Homo sapiens: one gene and its partners. The protein of the gene in region 1 purifies or fractionates together with the protein of each later gene. This does not show direct contact. Each region holds a gene or a part of one and is shown in the gene's direction. Other genes may lie near its edges. The genes, in order: DBF4B, MAP1B, NISCH, FBN2, MAP1S, EVA1C and KIAA0232.

The links.
Region 2: the proteins of DBF4B (region 1) and MAP1B purify together in Homo sapiens (affinity purification with mass spectrometry; 3 studies listed by BioGRID and IntAct, with this or other methods). This does not show direct contact.
Region 3: the proteins of DBF4B (region 1) and NISCH purify together in Homo sapiens (co-immunoprecipitation; one large-scale study listed by IntAct). This does not show direct contact.
Region 4: the proteins of DBF4B (region 1) and FBN2 purify together in Homo sapiens (co-immunoprecipitation; one large-scale study listed by IntAct). This does not show direct contact.
Region 5: the proteins of DBF4B (region 1) and MAP1S purify together in Homo sapiens (affinity purification with mass spectrometry; 3 studies listed by BioGRID and IntAct, with this or other methods). This does not show direct contact.
Region 6: the proteins of DBF4B (region 1) and EVA1C purify together in Homo sapiens (affinity purification with mass spectrometry; 3 studies listed by BioGRID and IntAct, with this or other methods). This does not show direct contact.
Region 7: the proteins of DBF4B (region 1) and KIAA0232 purify together in Homo sapiens (co-immunoprecipitation; one large-scale study listed by IntAct). This does not show direct contact.

The regions. Positions count from the first base shown.
Region 1 is NC_000017.11:44,749,715-44,752,764, forward strand, and holds the end of DBF4B (protein DBF4 homolog B), read left to right. Parts: exon of another isoform or gene 1-833; intron 834-880; coding exon 881-1,539; 3' UTR 1,540-2,225; coding exon of another isoform or gene 2,226-2,249; 3' UTR 2,250-2,550; downstream 2,551-3,050. UniProt on the Homo sapiens protein: Regulatory subunit for CDC7 which activates its kinase activity thereby playing a central role in DNA replication and cell proliferation. Required for progression of S and M phases.
Region 2 is NC_000005.10:72,190,975-72,194,474, forward strand, and holds part of MAP1B (microtubule-associated protein 1B), read left to right. Parts: intron 1-2,891; coding exon 2,892-3,500. UniProt on the Homo sapiens protein: Facilitates tyrosination of alpha-tubulin in neuronal microtubules. Phosphorylated MAP1B is required for proper microtubule dynamics and plays a role in the cytoskeletal changes that accompany neuronal differentiation and neurite extension.
Region 3 is NC_000003.12:52,486,604-52,490,085, forward strand, and holds part of NISCH (nischarin), read left to right. Parts: intron 1-592; coding exon 593-2,002; intron 2,003-2,732; coding exon 2,733-3,075; intron 3,076-3,471; coding exon 3,472-3,482. UniProt on the Homo sapiens protein: Acts either as the functional imidazoline-1 receptor (I1R) candidate or as a membrane-associated mediator of the I1R signaling.
Region 4 is NC_000005.10:128,307,746-128,311,245, reverse strand, and holds part of FBN2 (fibrillin-2 precursor), read left to right. Parts: intron 1-1,137; coding exon 1,138-1,263; intron 1,264-1,846; coding exon 1,847-1,999; intron 2,000-3,500.
Region 5 is NC_000019.10:17,725,980-17,729,479, forward strand, and holds part of MAP1S (microtubule-associated protein 1S), read left to right. Parts: coding exon 1-2,193; intron 2,194-3,500. UniProt on the Homo sapiens protein: Microtubule-associated protein that mediates aggregation of mitochondria resulting in cell death and genomic destruction (MAGD). Plays a role in anchoring the microtubule organizing center to the centrosomes. Binds to DNA. Plays a role in apoptosis.
Region 6 is NC_000021.9:32,419,206-32,422,705, forward strand, and holds part of EVA1C (protein eva-1 homolog C isoform 1 precursor), read left to right. Parts: intron 1-617; exon of another isoform or gene 618-3,500. UniProt on the Homo sapiens protein: Binds heparin.
Region 7 is NC_000004.12:6,789,227-6,792,726, forward strand, and holds part of KIAA0232 (uncharacterized protein KIAA0232), read left to right. Parts: intron 1-3,500.

The DNA.
Region 1 (3,050 bases):
GGAGCTGGGGCAGCAGGAGTCCTGGCCCGGCTTCCTGGCCCTCCACAGGCCCTTGCCTCTCTGCAGAGCCGCGGGTTAGCTGTTGGTGTGCTCCACCCCCAACCCCGGCCTCCTTTCTCACGAGCATGTGGCCGCTCCTGCTTTCCAAAATGACTGTGTTTGTCCCCTCCCCCAGCCCCCCACGCTCCCGCACACAGATCCTCAGGAACATATGAAGCAGAGGAGGGGCTTGGGCTGCACCACTCACAGAGCTCCCTCCCCCAGGCACTTAGTTGGGGCCCAGCACTGACCTTTCCCCTGAGCCCAGGATGTGGCCAGAGCCCCCTCTGGGACCCCTCTCGCCCCTTCTCTGCCTCCTCAGCTTGAGCTGCCTGCCCGAAGTTCGGCTGTTCCGGGGCCAGTGTGTCACCTGCCAACTTCCACATCACCCTCCTCCCTCGCTCCCTCCTCTCCTTCCCCAAGGACCTCCCCCCATTTCTGGCAGCCAAGCCATTAATCTGGAGACAGAAATGGGTTTGCTATCGATTCTCTGGCCACTTTTTCTTTCATTACAATTTGTACCGTGATTCTTCTCACCCTTCTCTGCGTCCGTGCATTTAAAGAGTTGTCTCTTTAAATGTTGAAGCTTCCGGAAGCCTGATGCTATTCTGTGTCTCCTTTCAAAGGAAGAAGGGGGGGCCCAGCTATGGGTGAGGACTCAAGTTATTAGTTTGGAAATAGAGCAACTATGTGTACAGCCCACCTTAGAGGTCATGTTACCCCCTTCCTGTTAAATTTTACAATTAATTTTGGTTCAGGAAATGTAAATAAATTTGTTAATTACAAATAGCAAAGAGATGGGGCTGGAATGCCATATGTCGGTCCTTGATCTGCCCTCCAGTGACCCAAGGCAGGGCTGCGGGCCAGCAGCGATGGACAGAATCACTAGATGGTGTGATGGGACCTCCTGCAAGTCACACATGTGTGAGTGCCACAACCCTCCTGCCGGCCTTGCCCAAGGGCTCCAGGGAGCAGGGCTGCCTCTGTCCCTGCCCAGCCTCCTTTACCCAGTCTCATCTGGTCACTTCCTTGGCTCTGCTGCCTGGGGAGTGGTCGCCTGCAGAGGACATGCCCCTCCATCCCTCCCAAGAAAACTCCTTTGCCCCGGCGGACATTCCTGTTAAGGGCCCACTCCTCTTCCCTGAAGCCAGACCGTGGCTTATGTCTGCACGCTGCTGGGTTCGTCCCTTTCCTTTTGTGACATGGGGTTGCCTCATTCCCCATGACACCACCCCTCTGCATGAGGAAGTTTCCCCTTGCCCCTGTCTCAGACTTGGATACCTTTACCTGCTGCTCACACAAAGCCTGTGGTGCCGGGTTCGGGTGCCCTCATTGTCAACTGCAGGACCCATTCCCCGAACCTCACATCCGTGTACCCTTGCCTTCCCCTCCTATCTCAATGATCATGACCTTGGACATCTCTGCCAGGCCAAACCCCAAGGCTGGAACACTCCTCAGCCATTTCTCCATTGCGGCTTCCTGGCTGTAGACTCAGGTTAGAGGTGAACCCAGAACACCTGAGACTTGACCCAGGATGGATGGGTGCTGCTTGATGTGAATGAGGTCCCGCAGTGGCTCCTTGGCGTGAGCACTGCTCAGACTCCTTTCCACTCCAGCCCCCTTTCCACATCGCACCAGATGACTTTTACCCAGACCCAGTGGGCATTGCCTTATCTTGCAGTCAGTCCCTTTTCAACATGTTGCCGTTTCTTTCTGAAGAGGTGTCCTCCCTCCACAAGTCACACTGTCTGTCCCTGGCCCTCCAGCCCACCTCGCCAACCACTCTTGTTGGTTTCCTTCTCAGACTTGCCACCTTTCCCCTCTGCCCCAAAATGCCATGCTCCTCTCCTGGAAAACACTTGAGTTGATTCAGTAAATCGACTTCAAATACTTGAAGGCTCCCACCTTCTGTTCTCTGGCTCCTTCCTGCGGTCTATACCTACCGCCTCCTCTTCACCTCCTTCCCTTCCACACTTCCTTCCTGGGTAGCTCTGCCTGAAGCATTCCACTAAGATCATCTATTCCAAGGTCATGGACAGGCTACTGGTGACCAAAGTTGGTTCCTTTTCTCCTTTCTTTCCTCCTTGAAGCCTGGCTCCCTTGGTCGCAGCAGCCCCTCAGTGGCCTGGTTCTCCTGTCCCCCTGCCCTTCCTCACCATTGCCCATTCCCTCGTTCGTTCATTCAGCACAGGCCTTGCCGTCTGCCCTGAGTCAGCTCCGAGACACCTGAAGAGCCCTCCAGCCCTAACTACTTTACTCAGACTAGGTCCCCAGGCCTTTGTTCTTGCCTCTTCTCGCTGAGCCTTTCACTTCTCGGCAGATGTGACCGATTGGTAGCTCCACCCCAACTCCCTTCTGCTGGGTGGAATGCAGGAGCTAGCTGCCTCCAACTCACTGTGACCTCAGAAAAATGCCTTTATTACTCGGGCCTCAGTTTCCTCGTCTTTAAGTAAGGGGCTTGGATGAGATGATTTCAGGACCCTTTCCAATAATAAAATACTGTGACTGCCAGCAAATCTTTTATGTCTTTCCCTATCCTGCCACCAGCAGGAGTGCTGTATACCCGAGCACTCCTTCTCATCCTGGATCTTGGCTCCCCTTCCCAGGGGAGTTTCAGCTGTGCCCAGCTCAAACTGTTTTCTTGATCTAAAAAATGGAGGTAATCTAGGCTGGGCACGGTGGCTCACGCCTGTAATCCCTGCACTTTGGGAGGCTGAGGCGGGCGGATCATTTGAGGTCAGGAGTTCGAGACCAGCCTGGCCAACATAGTGAAACCCCATCTCTACTAAAAATACAAAAGTTAGCCGGGCATGCTGGCATGCCTGTAATCCCAGCTACTCGGGAGGCTGAGGCAGGAGAATCACTTGAACCTGGGAGGCAGAGGTTGCAGTGAGCCGAGATTGTGCCACTGCACTCCAGCCTGGGCAACAGGGCGAGACTGTCTCGAAAATAAATAAATAAATAAATAAATACGAAAAATGGAGATAATCATAGTTGCTACCTCGCTAGGA
Region 2 (3,500 bases), on another chromosome or scaffold:
TTTAATCAGAAAAAGTAATTAACAAAAAAGATTATCTTTGTCCCAAAGCATATTCCTCCTTGTTGCATCTGTCATCCAACTTTGTAAGAACCAGGGTAGCACTCAGTGTGGTTACATCTGAAGTACCCACTCCAGGAAGATAACATGTGTTGAACTGGCCAAGTTTGGCACACAGATCAACAAACATCTACTGAGCCTGATTATGTATTGAGGAAACAAAGATAACTAAGATACAAAGATACAGAAGATATATTTCCTGCTATCAGAAATGTTTAGAGTAGTGGGTTATAATAGTTACCATTTATCATGGTGATGATTTCCCAATTTGTTCAGAAGAAGCCTCAGTTTCCAAGTCTAAGAACTAGTCACAAGCTTCCTTGCCACTGCTAACATTGTTGGATCCTCCTTATGGTTCTCATCTATTCATTGAATAAGCTTGGTCAGGTGCTGCCGTGGGCTGGCCACTCTTAAGACCCTGTCTTTGCCCTTGAGGCACTCTCTACTGTGCTTGTTGGCCCACAGGTCTGGAAAGAGGCTGTGGGGGAAAACACGGGCTTCATTCTGTTGTGTAGTTCCAAGGATGTAGGAGTTGTTCTTCCTCCTCCTCCCTCTGCCCAATTCCATCTGTCTGTTTTATGACTGAGGGCTCTGTCCAGCCCTGTCTCTGCATTCTTGTCTCATCATTCAGAATGTGCTGCTGTTTCTTCAGAGGGACCAGATTTTCCTTCTCTGGAAAGAAACCTGTCAAAGCAATGCTGGCTTTCTTTTCTGCTTTGCCTTGTACATCACGGTTGTTCATTCACCAGTGTCTCTTGGCTATCTTTCATGACCTCTGACTTCTCAGAATTCTGTGCAATCTTGTTTTGTTTTGGGGTCATTTCCTGCATTTCATAGAAATTCTCTGGATAGAGGTGAAAAGACGGAAAGTAGGAAGATATTCCTTAAGTCTTTCTACCTTCTGCTTCAACCTGGTAATTACATACTTTACATAAAAAGAGCCAGTGATTGAATGCCCCCTACTCACAGCTGGATTATACCCTTGGCTGCCACACCTCTCAGCTAGGGTGGAATTTCAAAAATTAAAATGAACTAAACTTAATTTTTAAGTTTCACTATTAAAGATACAGCAGTTATTCTAGATTTGCCCCCTAAAACATATTATAAAACATGAATAGTTTGCATGTGCTTTGTGTGAAAATTGGGATCTAGAGACTTTTAATTGTGCTATAGTGATTGTGATGAGAGTCTCTGCTAACTATTGTACAAAAAACCATATTTGATGCCCTATGTTTGCTTTGGCCAGCAAATCATTTGAGCAAAGATGCCTGTCCCCTCTACCCAAAGATGGTATTACCATTTGCTTTTTCACTTTTCTTAGCTCCCAAAAACAGGAGTTGATTCTTATCCTTTTTACAGAAAATTGTGAAGTCACAGAAAAACAGCAAAGTTTTATTATTTTGTTATTTTGCGGCCCTTTACATAAAATGTTATGCTTAGGACTAATATGCTAACAAAACAAAAATGACTATTTTACTGCAATATTGCAGTCGAATATAGGAAAACTCAGATTCTATAAATTATTCTTACACACATTCATAATAGTAGCCTCAGAATGCTGATAGTCAGGAGATAGAGGAAACTAATCTAATACTAGAAGGTAAGAGTTCAGACCTGCTGGCTCAGGGATGCCTGGACCAAATGAAACCTTGGCTTTACCCCTTGATCATTTGTCATCCAGAATACAGAGCCCTTTTCAGTCGAAACTCTGAGCTGATTTGTGAGCTTTACTGAGACGGAAAGAATATTGGAGTTGATGGCATGATTCTCCATCACTAATTTGCTAGGCTAAGACCATGAAATATATGGCCATAATATGGAGTGAGAGAGACAAGTAGTGTTTTTATTAAACCACAATTTCTGTTTTGGTCCTGATTTGCTTTTCTATGTTTACATCCTTGGGAAGTACTAAACAATGTGTTGAAAAATGTTTCAGCCACATTTGATCTTAGCTGCTCACACCCAACTTGCCCTGAAAAGAATGGGAGCAGTAAGAGAACAGAGTGGCTCACTGTGGAGTTAAACATGAGCAAATGGGGAACGAACTTGGCCAAACCACTTTAATGTCATGGCTTTAATAAAAAAGTATTTGTATCTGCAGAGAATATGCTGGGTGACCCACTCATGTTTCAATCAGCGTGCACTGATGCCAGAAACCAGTAATTTTTTGTAGTAATAGGCAATCCGTAACTTCTTGTCTCCTATGGGGAAAAACCCACCAAGGTTTTTTCTTTTTTACATGCCAGATCCTGAAAGGAGGCCACAACAAGTGCCCTGTTAATCTGAATTTCTTTAAGGTATCCATCAGGCCTTTTTTTTTTTTTTTTTTGCCAAGTCTAGTGGAATAAAAGAAAATATTTTTTATTAGTGGTGAAATGACCCAGACAGCTTTCTCTTGTGATAGTTTAACGTTTTTTTTTAAAGGGCATCTTTGCCTTTATTCTAGGGGTAATATTCAAAGTGTTTCATAACCACTGCAGCACAATCCTCAGTTGCCCAGGTGGTCACTGGTGTTAGAACTGGAGCAGAGTACTGGCATTCCCCTGCTGGGCAGGAATAGATGGTGGAGGGGTTGTTGGGGAGGTGCCAGGGCGAGTGGGTACTGGTTGAGGTAGAAGCCAGTAGCAGCGGGGCTCAGGACAAAGGCTGTTCACCTTCCAGTAGGGAAGTATTTCAGCATTTAAGCAACCAACATCACTATGAGAGTGCATGTCTGAAACTGGTCCTATGTGCATCCTGTGATCCTGTAACACATAGTTATAGCTGGAGATGATGGATCAGTGATGATAATCACTTACACCTTTTCTTTCTTTCTTTCTTTCTTTAAAACCCAGATCGGGGAGTTACTAAGCACCACCCATCCTGCCAACAAAGCCAGCTTAACCCTGTTCTGTCCTGAAGAAGGGGACTGGAAGAACTCCAATCTTGACAGACACAATCTCCAAGACTTCATCAATATTAAACTCAATTCAGCTTCTATCTTGCCAGAAATGGAAGGACTTTCTGAGTTTACCGAGTATCTCTCAGAATCAGTGGAAGTCCCATCTCCCTTTGACATCTTGGAACCTCCCACATCGGGTGGATTTCTGAAGCTCTCCAAGCCCTGCTGTTATATTTTTCCAGGAGGGAGGGGCGATTCTGCCTTGTTTGCAGTGAATGGTTTCAATATGCTCATCAATGGCGGATCAGAGAGAAAATCCTGCTTCTGGAAGCTCATCCGACACTTAGACCGAGTGGACTCCATCCTGCTCACCCACATTGGGGATGACAATTTGCCTGGAATAAACAGCATGTTACAGCGGAAAATTGCAGAGCTCGAGGAAGAACAGTCCCAGGGCTCCACCACAAATAGTGACTGGATGAAAAACCTCATCTCCCCTGACTTAGGAGTTGTATTTCTCAATGTACCTGAAAATCTCAAAAATCCAGAGCCAAACATCAAG
Region 3 (3,482 bases), on another chromosome or scaffold:
TTCGCCATGTTGGACAGTTACATTCTTAAAGGGCTGCTGAAGATCGTATGGACATGGTAGCCCATAAATCCCAAAATGTGTACTCTGACCCTTTACAGAAGCTTACTAACTCCCACTCTACATGTGAGGGCTGCGGTGGCCAAGAAGAGCTGGAATTTAAGTGTGAAGGTCCTAAGACCTGCCCCAGCCCACTTCCCTGCCCCGGAGGCCACCAGGGGTGACAAGTAGATTCATGCCCTGGAGTGTTCCTTCTCTCCGGGGCTTATGGCAGCAACTGAATGACTTAGAAGTCCATGGGAGTGCTTCTGTTGTGGGAACTCGTGTGGTCTGGGCATAGCTGTGCCAGGCACCTATGGTCCAAGCCCCTAGAAGCATAGACTCTGACCAAACTGGCGACCCAGCCTTCCAGCAGGCAGCACTGGCTCCCACCAGGGCCCTCATCCTGGGAACTGACTTGGCCATGTGGGAGGCTTGGGAGACCCATGGGTTGGTTTCTCAGGGTCAGGGTGTAGCAGTGGGCTCCAGATGTGGCAGGTGGGAGGTGGGAGGGGCCCCTCCCAGCATGCCACTGACCTGGCCTCTCCCTGCACAGCCCAGAACATGCCGAGCCGGAGGTCCAGGTGGTGCCGGGGTCTGGCCAGATCATCTTCCTGCCCTTCACCTGCATTGGCTACACGGCCACCAATCAGGACTTCATCCAGCGCCTGAGCACACTGATCCGGCAGGCCATCGAGCGGCAGCTGCCTGCCTGGATCGAGGCTGCCAACCAGCGGGAGGAGGGCCAGGGTGAACAGGGCGAGGAGGAGGATGAGGAGGAGGAAGAAGAGGAGGACGTGGCTGAGAACCGCTACTTTGAAATGGGGCCCCCAGACGTGGAGGAGGAGGAGGGAGGAGGCCAGGGGGAGGAAGAGGAGGAGGAAGAGGAGGATGAAGAGGCCGAGGAGGAGCGCCTGGCTCTGGAATGGGCCCTGGGCGCGGACGAGGACTTCCTGCTGGAGCACATCCGCATCCTCAAGGTGCTGTGGTGCTTCCTGATCCATGTGCAGGGCAGTATCCGCCAGTTCGCCGCCTGCCTTGTGCTCACCGACTTCGGCATCGCAGTCTTCGAGATCCCGCACCAGGAGTCTCGGGGCAGCAGCCAGCACATCCTCTCCTCCCTGCGCTTTGTCTTTTGCTTCCCGCATGGCGACCTCACCGAGTTTGGCTTCCTCATGCCGGAGCTGTGTCTGGTGCTCAAGGTACGGCACAGTGAGAACACGCTCTTCATTATCTCGGACGCCGCCAACCTGCACGAGTTCCACGCGGACCTGCGCTCATGCTTTGCACCCCAGCACATGGCCATGCTGTGTAGCCCCATCCTCTACGGCAGCCACACCAGCCTGCAGGAGTTCCTGCGCCAGCTGCTCACCTTCTACAAGGTGGCTGGCGGCTGCCAGGAGCGCAGCCAGGGCTGCTTCCCCGTCTACCTGGTCTACAGTGACAAGCGCATGGTGCAGACGGCCGCCGGGGACTACTCAGGCAACATCGAGTGGGCCAGCTGCACACTCTGTTCAGCCGTGCGGCGCTCCTGCTGCGCGCCCTCTGAGGCCGTCAAGTCCGCCGCCATCCCCTACTGGCTGTTGCTCACGCCCCAGCACCTCAACGTCATCAAGGCCGACTTCAACCCCATGCCCAACCGTGGCACCCACAACTGTCGCAACCGCAACAGCTTCAAGCTCAGCCGTGTGCCGCTCTCCACCGTGCTGCTGGACCCCACACGCAGCTGTACCCAGCCTCGGGGCGCCTTTGCTGATGGCCACGTGCTAGAGCTGCTCGTGGGGTACCGCTTTGTCACTGCCATCTTCGTGCTGCCCCACGAGAAGTTCCACTTCCTGCGCGTCTACAACCAGCTGCGGGCCTCGCTGCAGGACCTGAAGACTGTGGTCATCGCCAAGACCCCCGGGACGGGAGGCAGCCCCCAGGGCTCCTTTGCGGATGGCCAGCCTGCCGAGCGCAGGGCCAGGTGAGATCAAGCACAGCTCTCAGGGGCCCCGGGGGCATGGGTCTGGCATGTGTGTGATCTCAGCATCTGCGGCTAGTGTGGGCTGGGAGTTGCTGCGAGAGCTGGGCCCCCTCCCCCCCTGCCCCTCGCCCCCCCCGGGCCTCCCTCTACATCACCACCCCAGGTTTGGTGCCAGGCTGCTCCTTATCTCAGTGCTGTAGAAGAAGCCCAGGAAAGCTGTCCTCTCACAAAATGGGTTGGCCCAGCCTCTTGCCACCCATGAAGGGCAGGCCAAGGGGGCTGCCCCACCTTTGCCTGCCCAGTGGGAGAGCAACAGGCTGCAGCACACCGAGGCCAGGAGAGCTGTCACCCTGGCTGCTGTGCTCCTCTGGGCCCAAGCATGGCCTCTGGGCACTACCTCCTCCAGGGTCACAGTCCCACGGATGGCTCTGTGGGCCAGGATCTGCCTTAGGCTTCACCCACCTCAACATCTTGCTGTGTTGTTCAGGCTGGTCTCAAACTTTGGGCTCAAACAATCCTCCGCCTCAGCCTCCCAAAGTGCTGGGATTACAGACATGAGCCACCGTGCCCGGCCGTGCTGTTCTGTTCTCCAATAGAGAAGCTGGTGGAAGTCCCCAGTAACCCAGAGGTGATGTGTGATGCACACAGTCTCCTCACTCTGAAGCTGCACATGCGATGTGAATCTTCATTTGGGGTCCGCTGTTAATATGGTGTTTTTCGGGGGATACAGCAATGACCAGCGTCCCCAGGAGGTCCCAGCAGAGGCTCTGGCCCCGGCCCCAGCGGAAGTCCCAGCTCCAGCCCCTGCAGCAGCCTCAGCCTCAGGCCCAGCGAAGACTCCGGCCCCAGCAGAGGCCTCAACTTCAGCTTTGGTCCCAGAGGAGACGCCAGTGGAAGCTCCAGCCCCACCCCCAGCCGAGGCCCCTGCCCAGTACCCGAGTGAGCACCTCATCCAGGCCACCTCGGAGGAGAATCAGATCCCCTCGCACTTGCCTGCCTGCCCGTCGCTCCGGCACGTCGCCAGCCTGCGGGGCAGCGCCATCATCGAGCTCTTCCACAGCAGCATTGCTGAGGTAGCGGCCCGGGTGTGGGTGCCAGCTATGGCACGGCCAGTCCTGAGGGCGAGGCCAAGCTTGGCTTCAGGTCAGCCTCAGGTCCCTGGACTTCCCTGATGTCGGAGTCCTCAGCTGAGCTGCTCACAGCTTTGAGGACCTGGGCAGTGAGGTCCTGAGTTGCCCTCCCCTGGCCATTTGTGCTGTGTCACCACCTCCTGTGCCACTTCCAGCCCCAGGTAGACCTCCCACCAACAGCCATCTCCCACCCCTCTCTTCCTCTCTGCCTTGAAGCATACGGATTCATTGGTGAGCCAAGAGGGGCTTCCCATGTCTCCTTGTGGAAGCTGTGGGCATGTCCCTGGTATGTGCAGGTTGCTAGGGTGGTGGAGCTGACAGGAGGCCCCCCGTCTTCAGGTTGAAAACGA
Region 4 (3,500 bases), on another chromosome or scaffold:
CTGAGGCCTGAGGGAAAGGCCCATCCTCACATTCTACAAAAGGCTCAATTAAGATTGGTTCATAGCTTTTTTTTTTTTCATATCAATGTAGCTAAGTTGTATGATGATAGACAAATTAATTTATGGCTCGTTGCCATAATTCACTGTATTTTTCCAGGAGGGTTGATTAAATATAAATTGGGAAAATGGGGTAGTGTGAAAACCTAAAATATTAAGTAAGTTATTAGTGAAAATATTGATAAGAATTACATTTTACATAGGAAAAATTGGTAAGCTAAAATGTGACCATTAACTTAATATTGATCAGTAATTTTTAAATGTTGGACTATATGGTATGAAGAAGTTCAAAGGTTATGCAGCTGCCATTCTTGCTTCCATCCCCCCACTTGATCACATGGTATTTCAATTCTTTTAGGGGCCTGTCTCACCACTAAACTGGGGGCTTCTGGAGACAAGGTCCACATCTTACTCATCATTACAGCCATAAGTTCTAGCTTACAGTAGAATCTCAATATTTTAATTGTGAAATGAGTGAATGCTTCTAACTGAACATTAAACATGTAGCGTAATTATTTCCATTATAACTTTTCTTTTGGAACATGTTTGATAAATGTATCTGGAAGAAATAGGATGTAATGAGGAGAACAACCAGCAGCTGCACTGCTTTAAGAATCTCTGAATAGTTACTAATTTGAAAGAAGCTACAAAGACAAAGGCTTTCCCAACCTGCATTCACTTTAAAGTTGGCATTAAAACTTAGCCTAAGTGACATAGGACAAAAGCAGGCTTTAAAGAAATTCCAATTGAAGAATGCGAATTGCAATAAAAAAAAAAAAAAAAAAATATATATATATATATATATATATATATATATATATATGTGCCAAGGAAATTATTTTTTGCCACTTTAGAATAATTTCTTTTGATGCTTTATATTTTTTAATATGGGGATTTTTTTCTTTTGAAGAAAGATGTATCTGTGTTATATAAATGCATATTTGGGATATTTTCTTTATTTCTAAGTTTTGCATAAATGGGGATTTAGAGAATCACCTATGCTTTGTTCAGTCATCTAAGTAATATAAATTCATTGAAAAAATAGATTTATTAATTAATAGATATTCTTGCCTACTCTAGATATTGATGAGTGTTTTGCACATCCTGGTGTGTGTGGGCCTGGGACCTGCTATAACACCCTGGGAAATTACACCTGCATTTGCCCACCTGAGTACATGCAGGTCAATGGAGGCCACAACTGCATGGGTAGGTAAAGAACTCTGAGATTAATTAGAGCACAGTTGTTGACTTCACACATAAAGCACTTACGTCTCAGAATTATTGTTTGGAAGTTTGGAAGTTCAGTCTTCGTGAATTGAGATATTTCAGAGTCTTGCAAGCTGCTGGCTTAGTATCAAGTTTTTGACCTTTGGGTATACATTTAAATTTTTAAAAGCATGAGTCTAATGTAGAAAATTTCCTCAAATGTTATATATTCTTAAATTTTTCATCTCCATTCATATAGTGTGAACATTAATTTACAAATAAAAGAACATTTAAATTTTAATGCTTTATTTTTTTAATTAAATAAATGATTTTGAGAGAAAAACAAATATGTATTAACATTGTCTCCCAAGAAAATTATAAGTGAAAACCTTTAAGGATAAAGGAGAGATGTTAATCTAAAAATGATTTATGTTTAAGGAGTTATTTTAAGATAGCTTCAAATGACTAAAAAGGGTTTCCGAGTTGTGTTCATCAGGAAAGCTTGATGTCTACAGCTGTGTGGGCTTCATTATAAACTACTCGTGGATACAAATGGCTAGTTTCTTTGTTTTTCTTTATATAGACATGAGAAAAAGCTTTTGCTACCGAAGCTATAATGGAACCACTTGTGAGAATGAGTTGCCTTTCAATGTGACAAAAAGGATGTGCTGCTGCACATATAATGTGGGCAAAGCCTGGAACAAACCTTGTGAACCATGCCCAACTCCAGGAACAGGTAAGCACACGGCTCGTGCATCTGCTGACTGCCACATCAGTGATACACGCATATATCTAACAGTATAGTCAAAGTCACTGCATGCTAAAACTAGAGATGCTCAGTTCCAAAAATTCCCAAGAGCATCATATGGTTCTGTTTCCCAAGTGATCCTCTTTGGGATTCAAACACTAACTTCTGAGACATTATGTTGGATAGGCTTGTGAATCCTGAAAATAAGATCCATTGCTGAAGAGTTAGAGTTGATAGCATTAGTCCATTTAAACTCATTATCTTAAACTGTGCTTGTCAATTATTGATTTATTCATCAAACAAATATTTCTTGAGTAACTACTGTATGTCACTGTGCTAGACATGGAAAGTATAATATTTGGAGAAAAACTAAATTCAATAAGGATTTTTTTTTAGTTCAGCCGTGGAAAATATGCAAAAAGTGTTTTTTATGAGCGAATTTTACATAAAAGCAACCCATTGTCATAATGTGCCTTTTACATCTTCTTCCTCAGACATCAGTGAAATTTTTAGGCAAAAAATAGAGCTTGTCTTCACTTGGTCATGTTTTTTTCACAAGACAGTTTCTTTTGAAAGAAAAAATGAAAGATAATAGAGATAAGAGCAAAAATGCTTGTCTTAAAATTGCTGTCCATCAGGCTCTCTTTTATGACCTGGAGAATGGCAACTTTTAATAACTATAGATACTAAGAGTTGAACCAGTAGGCCAAATAAGAAACAGTGATTATGCATTTGTTACCAAATATTACTTAGGGTATATGTATTTAAATGTTCCATTTAATGTATTGATGAAATTAAGGAGAGAAATGATGAAAAGCAACACATAGGCCTTTTTCAGTGGCTCCAATTCACTGGTCAAATGGATTTTCTTAGCCTTATCTTGCCATTATTATGTTCCATAAAATTAAATAGAAACATTCCTACAATTCTCAACTTTAAAACTCCATAGTTACAAATTTAAGATCATTGATTTGGGGAATTAAAATGGCACTTTCTTTGTGAGAAGAAGCGAAAGGCTTGGAGTTGAGAGACGTGTCTGTATTTAAATCAAAACTCTTAAGATACTTATTGTGGAACCTCCTGCAGAGTATGTATCCTTTCTGAAACTAATTTCTCATGTATAAAATAGGAATAATAAATAATTACAGTGACTAATTCATATGGGTGCAATGACAATTAGGGAGATTATACATATAAATTATAATTTGAAGATTTCCAGACAATTAGAAACCATTAAGTTGAGCATCTGTGGTCTTTCTATCTGTTCTCAATACTCGGTATATATTGATGGATGAAATATACAATATCCCTGACCTGATAGCACTTGGAATATAGTATGCAGTTTAAGTTTTATATAATACTGTTTTCAGGAGTTTTACTCACTTGTATAGCAGTGAGCGTCAGAAGCATTTTTCATCTTGCAAATTAGAATTCTTTTAAATTTCCATTGATTTGGTTAATTATGTGTAAGAATACTTCTTATAGTCCC
Region 5 (3,500 bases), on another chromosome or scaffold:
CGCAGCTGCCCAACTCTGAGGGCCTGTGCGAATTCCTGGAGTACGTGGCTGAGTCTCTGGAGCCACCGTCCCCCTTCGAGCTGCTGGAGCCCCCGACCTCCGGGGGCTTCCTCAGGCTGGGCCGGCCCTGCTGCTACATCTTCCCTGGAGGCCTCGGGGATGCCGCCTTCTTCGCCGTCAATGGCTTCACTGTGCTGGTCAACGGTGGCTCAAACCCCAAGTCCAGTTTCTGGAAGCTGGTGCGGCACCTGGACCGCGTGGATGCCGTGCTGGTGACCCACCCTGGCGCCGACAGCCTCCCCGGCCTCAACAGCCTGCTGCGGCGCAAACTGGCGGAGCGCTCCGAGGTGGCTGCTGGTGGGGGCTCCTGGGACGACAGGCTGCGCAGGCTCATCTCCCCCAACCTGGGGGTCGTGTTCTTCAACGCCTGCGAGGCCGCGTCGCGGCTGGCGCGCGGCGAGGATGAGGCGGAGCTGGCGCTGAGCCTCCTGGCGCAGCTGGGCATCACGCCTCTGCCACTCAGCCGCGGCCCCGTGCCAGCCAAACCCACCGTGCTCTTCGAGAAGATGGGCGTGGGCCGGCTGGACATGTATGTGCTGCACCCGCCCTCCGCCGGCGCCGAGCGCACGCTGGCCTCTGTGTGCGCCCTGCTGGTGTGGCACCCCGCCGGCCCCGGCGAGAAGGTGGTGCGCGTGCTGTTCCCCGGTTGCACCCCGCCCGCCTGCCTCCTGGACGGCCTGGTCCGCCTGCAGCACTTGAGGTTCCTGCGAGAGCCCGTGGTGACGCCCCAGGACCTGGAGGGGCCGGGGCGAGCCGAGAGCAAAGAGAGCGTGGGCTCCCGGGACAGCTCGAAGAGAGAGGGCCTCCTGGCCACCCACCCTAGACCTGGCCAGGAGCGCCCTGGGGTGGCCCGCAAGGAGCCAGCACGGGCTGAGGCCCCACGCAAGACTGAGAAAGAAGCCAAGACCCCCCGGGAGTTGAAGAAAGACCCCAAACCGAGTGTCTCCCGGACCCAGCCGCGGGAGGTGCGCCGGGCAGCCTCTTCTGTGCCCAACCTCAAGAAGACGAATGCCCAGGCGGCACCCAAGCCCCGCAAAGCGCCCAGCACGTCCCACTCTGGCTTCCCGCCGGTGGCAAATGGACCCCGCAGCCCGCCCAGCCTCCGATGTGGAGAAGCCAGCCCCCCCAGTGCAGCCTGCGGCTCTCCGGCCTCCCAGCTGGTGGCCACGCCCAGCCTGGAGCTGGGGCCGATCCCAGCCGGGGAGGAGAAGGCACTGGAGCTGCCTTTGGCCGCCAGCTCAATCCCAAGGCCACGCACACCCTCCCCTGAGTCCCACCGGAGCCCCGCAGAGGGCAGCGAGCGGCTGTCGCTGAGCCCACTGCGGGGCGGGGAGGCCGGGCCAGACGCCTCACCCACAGTGACCACACCCACGGTGACCACGCCCTCACTACCCGCAGAGGTGGGCTCCCCGCACTCGACCGAGGTGGACGAGTCCCTGTCGGTGTCCTTTGAGCAGGTGCTGCCGCCATCCGCCCCCACCAGTGAGGCTGGGCTGAGCCTCCCGCTGCGTGGCCCCCGGGCGCGGCGCTCGGCTTCCCCACACGATGTGGACCTGTGCCTGGTGTCACCCTGTGAATTTGAGCATCGCAAGGCGGTGCCAATGGCACCGGCACCTGCGTCCCCCGGCAGCTCGAATGACAGCAGTGCCCGGTCACAGGAACGGGCAGGTGGGCTGGGGGCCGAGGAGACGCCACCCACATCGGTCAGCGAGTCCCTGCCCACCCTGTCTGACTCGGATCCCGTGCCCCTGGCCCCCGGTGCGGCAGACTCAGACGAAGACACAGAGGGCTTTGGAGTCCCTCGCCACGACCCTTTGCCTGACCCCCTCAAGGTCCCCCCACCACTGCCTGACCCATCCAGCATCTGCATGGTGGACCCCGAGATGCTGCCCCCCAAGACAGCACGGCAAACGGAGAACGTCAGCCGCACCCGGAAGCCCCTGGCCCGCCCCAACTCACGCGCTGCCGCCCCCAAAGCCACTCCAGTGGCTGCTGCCAAAACCAAGGGGCTTGCTGGTGGGGACCGTGCCAGCCGACCACTCAGTGCCCGGAGTGAGCCCAGTGAGAAGGGAGGCCGGGCACCCCTGTCCAGAAAGTCCTCAACCCCCAAGACTGCCACTCGAGGCCCGTCGGGTGAGTACTGGAGCTGGGGCCCTGGGCTGGGTTAGCAGCTGCTTAGGCTGGAGAGCATAGCTCGTCCCCCTGTTTTTACATTTTCAGTTTTTTTAAAAGAGATGGTCTCACTCTGTCTCTGAGCTGGAGTGCAGTGGTGTGGTCACAGCTCATTGCAGCCTTGAACAATGGGGCTCAAGCCACCCTCCCACCTCAGCCTCTCCAGTAGCTGGGACTACTGGCACCGCCACTACCCCTGCCTAATTTTAAAGTTTTTGGTAGAGATAGGGTCTTACTATGTTGCCTGGGCTGATTTCAAACTCCTGGCCTCAAGCTGTGTGCCCACCTCAGCCTCCCAAAGTGTTGGGATGACTGGCGTGAGCCACGGTGCCCTGCCAGTTCTGTTCTTTTTTTTTTTTTTGAGACAGAATTTCGTTCTTGTTGCCCAGGCAAGAATGCAATGGCACGATCTTGGCTGACTGCAACCTCTGACTCCCGGGTTCAAACAATTCTCCTGTCTCAGCCTCCCGAGTAGGTGGGATTACAGGTGCCTGCCACCACGCCTGGCTAATTTTTGTATTTTTAGTAGAGTTGGGGTTTCACCATGTTGGCCAGGCTGGTCTCGAACTCCGGACCTCAGGTGATCTGCCCACCTTGGCCTCCCAAAGTGCTGGGATTACAGGCATGAGCCACTGCACCCAGCCAAGTCCTCCTGTTCGTAATTACTTCGTGACCTCAGCCGTGCCCACCTCTCCGGGGCTCAGTTTCTCCTGTGAAATGGAAACTGACCTCAGTGTTGAAGCACTTGCCATTCTGAGGTGCCTGGACAGGTGAGCACGTATGCCAACTGTGGGTTTCTAGAAGCCACAATAAGTAAAATGAAACAGTTGAAAATTTAAATAGCGTATTTTATGTAACTGATTGGTTAGGAGGACCCGGCCTATGGTTGCACTCATAGCAGAGCAAAATCAGCAAAGAGAAAAGGCACATAGGGTGAAGTCCAAAGGAAACCAGGCAGAAGCTTCCAGAATCCTCTCCCAGTGGGGCTGCACACCACAGGCTTCATTTCTCCAGTAGCAAGTTGTAACAGTGTGTCCCTCATGGAAGCTCATTAGACACAGCATGCCCAGGTTTCCTATTGGGCCATTACATAGGCATCTTCTGCCTGGCACCCACACTCTAGACTCCCCAAAAAGGAGAAATCAGGTGTGTGGTCCAGTCCAGGCACAGGGAGCCCCTCTCAGACAGGGAATGGTGGGAACCCTCTGCCTAAGATCCAAATTCCCAGAGACCAGCCAAAGGCTCACATTTTAAGCAGGCCTTGCTGA
Region 6 (3,500 bases), on another chromosome or scaffold:
TTTGGAGGTCACTGATCTTCACAGCCATCCTGTTGGCTTAATATCTTTAAAATTCTTAGTGAGGCACCACTTTGAGGGTAATGTACTATGAGAGAACAATTGCTCCCTCGTTACCCACCCCTATTGCCTGACTTGCGTACTGCTCTCCCCAGCTCCACAGCTGCTAATAAAATTTAGAAGCAGGATTTGAACCCAGTACCTATTGGGTTTTAAATATCCATACTGATGGCCGGGCACTGTGGCTCACGCCTGTAATCCCAACACTTTGGGAGGCCGAGGCAGGTGAATCATTTGAGGTCAGGAGTTTGAGACCAGCCTGGCCAAAATGGTGAAACCCCATCTGTACTAAAAATACAAAAATTAGCTGGGCATAGTGGCATGCTCCTGTAATCCCAGCTACTCGGGAGACTGAGGCAGGAGAATCACTTGAACCCAGGAGGTGAAGGTTGCAGTGAGCCGAAATCGTGCTTCTGCACTTCAGCCTGGGTGACAGAGCGAGTTCCTGTAAAAACAAAAACAAACAAAAAACAAAAACAAACAAACAAACAAAAAAACATACTGTCACTGAAGCTGAGCAATGGACCAAGAAGGTGGGAGCGGGGGTGGGGGCTGGGGGGAGGTCTGAAGTTTTATGATACTTTGTCACTATTTTAATGAGGCTGGTATATTTGTATCCTTCTGTAAGGAAATGGTTTCTCATAATAACATAAATCCTAAATCCTACAGTCATGAAGATTTTAGTACTGGAAAAAGAATCTTGGGTTGGAAAGGCAGCTGACCAAGTGATTCTGGTGTCTTCTGAGTTTCCCCTTGCCCCTTGGGGTATCTCGTTCTGCCACCCCTTTAGTTGGCTCCCATGTGTGCACCACCGGCTCAGCAGAGGCAGTAACTTCTTTACTTGGTTTCCCTCAGTATGAGTAAAAAAGTTGGTGAGTTAAAAATACTTTTAGGGTTTTAAAAAATTTTTACAGCCTGGCCCATAGGGTGAAACCTGTCTCTACTTAAAATACAAAAATTAGCCAGGCATGGTGGTGGGCGCCTGTAATCCCAGCCACTCGGGAGGCTGAGGCAGGAGAATTGCTTGAGCCTGGGAAGCGGAGGTTGCAGTGAGCCAAGATCATGCCACCACACTCCAGCCTGGGCAATAGAGCGAGACCCTGTCTCAAGAAAAAAGAAAAAAAATTATCTTTTACTTTTGAGATAGGGTCTTGCTCTGTCACCCAGGCTGGAATACAGTGGTGCAATCACGGCTCACTGCAGCCTCAACCTCTGGGGCTCAAGCCATCCTCCCACCTCAGCACTCCCTAGTAGTTGGGACTATAGTCACATGCCAGCAGGCCTAGCTAATTTTTTTTGGCATTTTTTTTTTGTAGAGACAGGGTCTCACTATGTTGCCCAGGCTGGTCTCAAACTCCTGGACTCAAGAGAGCCACCCGCCCTGGCCTCCCAAAGTGCTGGGATTACAGGAGTGAGCCACTGTGCCTGGCCCTAAAAATAATTTATTAAGCACATAAAGCACTCTATGCCAGACACTGTTCAAAGAACTTCATGTTAACTCATTTAATCCTCCCAGTTGTAGCTATAAAGGAGATGCTAGTATAAAAAGTTCAAGAAACTGAGGCAAAGAGCAATTTAGTAACTTTTGGGGATTTGAATCCAGGTAGCCTTTCTAATACCAAGGGAATAAAACAAAATAAATTACATGCAGTTTAAAGCAGTGGCACTTCTGTCATGTTTATCTCTTCATTTCCTAGAGCCAAATCTTTCCCAGGACTTACATAAGTAATGTCCATTCCTTGTCCTGTTTAAAGATAGTACCATCTAGCCTCAAAGAACTGATTATAGAATTGGGTCTGTAATTTGTTTCTGGAAATTGGTGTTCTGAAACTATTTCCCCAACAAAACACCTAGAAATGCTGAATAAAATATAAGAAAAATCTTTTAATGTATAAATGAGTGGTGAGGAAACAAAAATGAAGAGAGAATAGAGAACTAGGGATGATAGCTGGTGCTAACCCTATGGCTACGTTGGAGTTGCTTGATGGTCTTGACAACGAAGATTTAACAGGTGCCTGAGCGCAGGCGATAAGGAGTGAGACCACTGTATAGTGAGGAATTAGAATAAAGACCTCTATATAAAGCCAGGACTTTGAAAACCTAAGCCTTCATTAAAAGGTGGATGTAAAACAAATCAGCCTTCTTGTAAAGAAAGATGACAAGGAAACTTGTCATAGCCTAGGTTCAGGATTGGAGAAAAAAATAATGTCTCTTGAGATGGTGTAATCAAAATTCTGCCTTTTGGAGAGTCTGGGTTTTGAATTCATATTACCTTTACTGGGAAACCCAAGTTGAGAAACTAATAAAGTTGTCCCATGATACCTGGCAAAAACAAACACACAGATACTGCCTTCATGGGAATATCATCAATATAGGCCCATCTATAGATTCCTATAGCTAAAATGCTGCTGATTATGATCACACAATTCAAAATTACATTATATGAGCAGTAGTCAGCAGCAATGACACGGTTCTTAAGTAATAAAAGAGAGAATCTAGGTCTGGGCATGGTGGCTCATGCCTGTAATCCCAGCACTTTGGGAGGCCGACGTGGGTGGATCACCTGAGGTCAGGAGTTCAAGACCAGCCTGGCCAACATGGCGAAGCCCTGTCTCTACTAAAAAATACAAAAATTAGCTGGGTGTGGTGGCGGGTGCCTGTAATCCCAGCTAGTTGGAAGGCTGCGACATGAGAATCACTGGAACCTGGGAGGTGGAGGTTGCAGTGAGCTGAGACTGTGCCACTGCACTCCAGCCTGGGCAACAGAGCAAGACCCTGTCTCAAAAAAAAAAAAAAAAAAAGAGGGAATCTAAAAAGAAATTTAAGAAGGAATCTAAAACATGAGAAAGGAACAAAAGGCTATCGAGAAAAAACAGGTGTATTTGTAAAAGAATCAAAGATATCTACTAACATGAAAAATATATTCATTGACATGAAAAGCCTGATGGGTAGGTTGAAGAGCAGATTAGGTATAGCTGAAGAGAGAAACAGTGAGGTGGAAAAAAAAGCTGGAGAAATTATCCGGAATGAAGCAAAACAGGTAAACATATGGAAAACATGGAAGAAAAGTCATAAGACATGGAGGATGGAATGATGGTTGAATATACATCTGATCAGTATTCCAGAAAAAGAAAGTAGGGAAAAGGAGAGAGAGGCAACACTCAAAGTGATGGTGTCCTAGGATTAATTTTTAAGGATTGATGAAAGATTCAGAGTTAAGCATTCCAAGGAAGATAAATAAAATAAATTTATACCTGAATGTGTCATACTGAAACTGTAAAATACTAAAGACAAAGTGACAGTCTTAAAAGCAATCAGATAGTAAAGGAAATGTTATCTATAAAGTCTTTGCTACAAAAACAGTGGGAGCCATAGACAGCGAAATAATATTTTCCAGGTTCTGAGAAACAAACAAACAAAAAACAACCATCAGTCCTGAATTA
Region 7 (3,500 bases), on another chromosome or scaffold:
TCCCAAAGTGCTGGGATTACAGGACTGAGCCACCATGCCCGGCCTTTTCTTTTTTTTTTTTTCCCGAGACTGAGTTTTACTCTGTCACCCAGGTTGGAGTATAGTGGCGTGATCTTGGCTTACTGCAACCTCTGTCTCGTGGGTTCAAGTGATTCTCCTGCCTCAGACTCCCCAGTAGCTGGGATTACAGGTGCGTGCCACCATGCCCGGCTAATTTTTTATTTTTTAATAGAGACGGGGTTTCACCATGTTGGCCAGGTTGGTCTTGAACTCCTGACCTCATGATCTTCCTGCCTCGGCCTCCCAAAGTGCTGGGATTACAGGTGTGAGCCACCGTGCCTGGCCAGTCATCTCATTTTCAACTTGCATCTACGTTCTTTCATTAATTTTGTGACTGAGTTGGAGAGGGCTTTTGCATAAACAGATTCATGATGGTGGTCCTAAATTATTCTGAAGACAGGCAAACCTGTCTGTAGATGAGCAGGTTTTTTGCATATGGCTTAAGAAAGTCTGGAAAATTGGCCAGGCATGCTGGCTTGCCTATAATTCCAGCACTTTGGGAAAGCGAGGTGGGAGGATCACTTGAGCCCAGGAGTTTGAGATGTGCCTGGGCAACATGGTGAAACCCTGTTTCTACAAAAAAATTTTAAAAATTAGCCAGGTGTGGTGGCACATGTCTGTAGTCCCAGCTACTTAGGAGGCTGAGGCAGGAGGATCGCTTGAGCCCAGGAGATCAAGGCTGCAGTGAGCCATGATTGCACCACTGGACTCCAGCCTGGGTGACTGAGCGAGACCCTGTCTCAAGAAAAAAAAAAGAGTGGAAAATAGAAATTGTCAAAGTTTACACTATACAGTATGTTATTTTCAGGAAAGCGAATGTTTTCACTTTAATCTTACATCTTGTTAATATACATTAAGCAGTAGAAACTTCCTCTTTGGTATTTGGAATGACTGTTGAGATTTCTGTTTCTGACATCTTCCCTAAGTGCTTACCTGTTGCCAGGCTTTCTCCATATCTGTCTCTTCCTCAGTGTTGCCCCTGGTTGAATAGGGAGAAGATAGGGAAAACCAGCAGTAATTATTTCAGAATTGTTCACCCAGTTTGGAGATTTTTTTCAAGCCCTTCCTTTTTTTATTTAATTTTTTTTTTTTAATTAAAAAAGGTCTTTTTTTTTTTTTTTTTTTTGAGGCAGAGTCTCACTCTGTCACCGAGGCTGGAGTGCGGTGGCACGATCACAGCTCACTACAGCCAGGACCTCCTGGGCTCAAGTGATCCTCCTGCCTCAGCTGGGACTACATGCTCATGTTACCACTCCTGGCTAATTTTTATTCTTTTTATGTAGAGACAGGGTTTTGCCATGTTGCCCAGGCTGATATCAAACTCCTGGCCTCAAGCGATCCTCCCGCCTTGGCCTCTCAAAGTGCTGGGACTGTGGGTATGAGCCACCATGCCAGGCAAGCCCTTTATTAGATGTCTGATTAGTATGTTGCTCCTTGCTAGCATTTTCCCTAAATATTTTAATGGAGAGAAAGTTGAAATAGAGTAGACATGTTTTTAATTCTTTCTTTGGTTGTTTTCCTTGCCACTGCTTTCTTTGGTTAGTTACCATCATAGATAATTGAGTCCTGATTCTACTTTTGTTAATCTTTTGCCAGTACCATCTGAAGGAGTTTCTTGTTTTTATATACTTTTTTTTTTTTTTTTTTTTTTTGAGGCAGTCTTGCTCTGTCACCCAGGCTGGAGTCCAGTGGTACAATCTTGGCTTACTGCAACCTCCACCTCCCGGGTTCAAGCGATTCTCCTGCCTTGGCCTCCTGAGTACCTGGGACTACAGGTGTGTGCCACCATGCCCAGATAATCTTTTGTATTTTTAGTAGAGATGGGGTTTTGCCATGTTGCCCAGGCTGGTCTCGAACTCCTGAGCTCAGGCAGTCCGCCCGCCTTGGCCTCCCAAAGTGTTGGATTACAGGCATGAGCCACCGTGCCTGGCCTGTTTTTATATACTTTAAAGTTTAAATTAAACTTGTTAAAGTATGTGTTTTGTATGATTTGCCAAAACATTGGAATACAAGTAGCTGTCATAAAGCCTTTTTTTTTTTTTTTTTTTTTTTTTTTTGAGACAGGGTCTCATTCTGTCACCCAGGCTAGAGTGCAGTGGCACAATTATGGCTCACTGTAGCCTTGGCCACCTCCCAGGCTCAATTGATCCTCCCACCTCAGCTTCCTGAGTAACTGGGACTACAGTTATGCACCACCACACCCAGCTAATTTTTAAATTTTTTGTAGAGATGGGGTTTTACCACGTTACCCAGGCTGTTCTGGAACTCCTGAACTCAAGCGATGCTCCTGCCTCTGCCTCCCAAAATGCTGGGATTACAGGCGTAAACCACTATGCCTGGACTCAAGCCGACTTTTTAACATGAACAATAAGTCTCTTTCTTCATCTCCCTTCCTATCCTGTATTCATCTTGCCTTGAAGACCACAGATAAATTTTAAAAAATGGAATCATGGTAAAGAGTGTTCTTGTGTCATTATTTAAACAAACACTAAACTTTGTATCTTGGAATGCTTTCCATATCAGACATACAGATTGATACGGGTTGGCTGTGTCCCCACCCAAATCTCATCTTGAATTCCCACATGTTGTAGGAGGGACCTGGTGGGAGGTGATTGAATCATGGGGACAGGTCTTTCTCATGCTGTTCTCATGATAGTGAATACGTCTCATGAGATTTGATGGTTTTAAAAAGGGGAGTTTCCCTGCATAATCTCTCCTCTTTTGACTGTCACCATCCATGTAAGAGGTGACTTTGCTCCTCCTTGCCTTCTGCCATGATTGTGAGGCCTCTGCAGCCACGTGGAACTGTAAGTCAATGAAACCTCTTTCCTTTCTAAATTACCCAGTCTTGGGTATGTCTTTATCAGCATTGCAAAAACAGACTAATACACAGATCTACTTTAGGTACAGATTTGCTTTACCATGTTCTTTTTTTAATATGCCTAGTATTACCTTGTGTGAAGGTGCCTGAATTTATTTAACTAGTTGATATGAAGAGTTTCCAGGTTTTTGTTATTTGTAACACAGTGCTACAGTAAACATTTTTGTACATATGTCTTAGTGAACTTTCATGAGTAACCACCTTACTCTCAGCAGCCTTAAAAAAATTGACCAACAAGTTTCTAACTACTCTGAATAATCATTTGTCATGTTAAAAATTTTCTTGGTGGCTATATTAGTTTTACTACTTTTGTTAAGGCCGGATGTTTTGTTTTCTGAAGTAGTCCTGTGAGATAATTTCATACAATTAAGCACAGATTTTTTATATTGCATGTAGAATATTAAGCTCATAAAGTTTATAAAGGCACAGGGTTGGCTTTATGAGCCTGTAATTGCATCATACAGGGCCCTTGCTTGCTTCAGTGATCTGCTGTTGTAGTCTTGATAGTCTTAGGTTTTTTTTTTTTTGTTTTTTTTTTTTGAGACAGAGTCTCACTCTG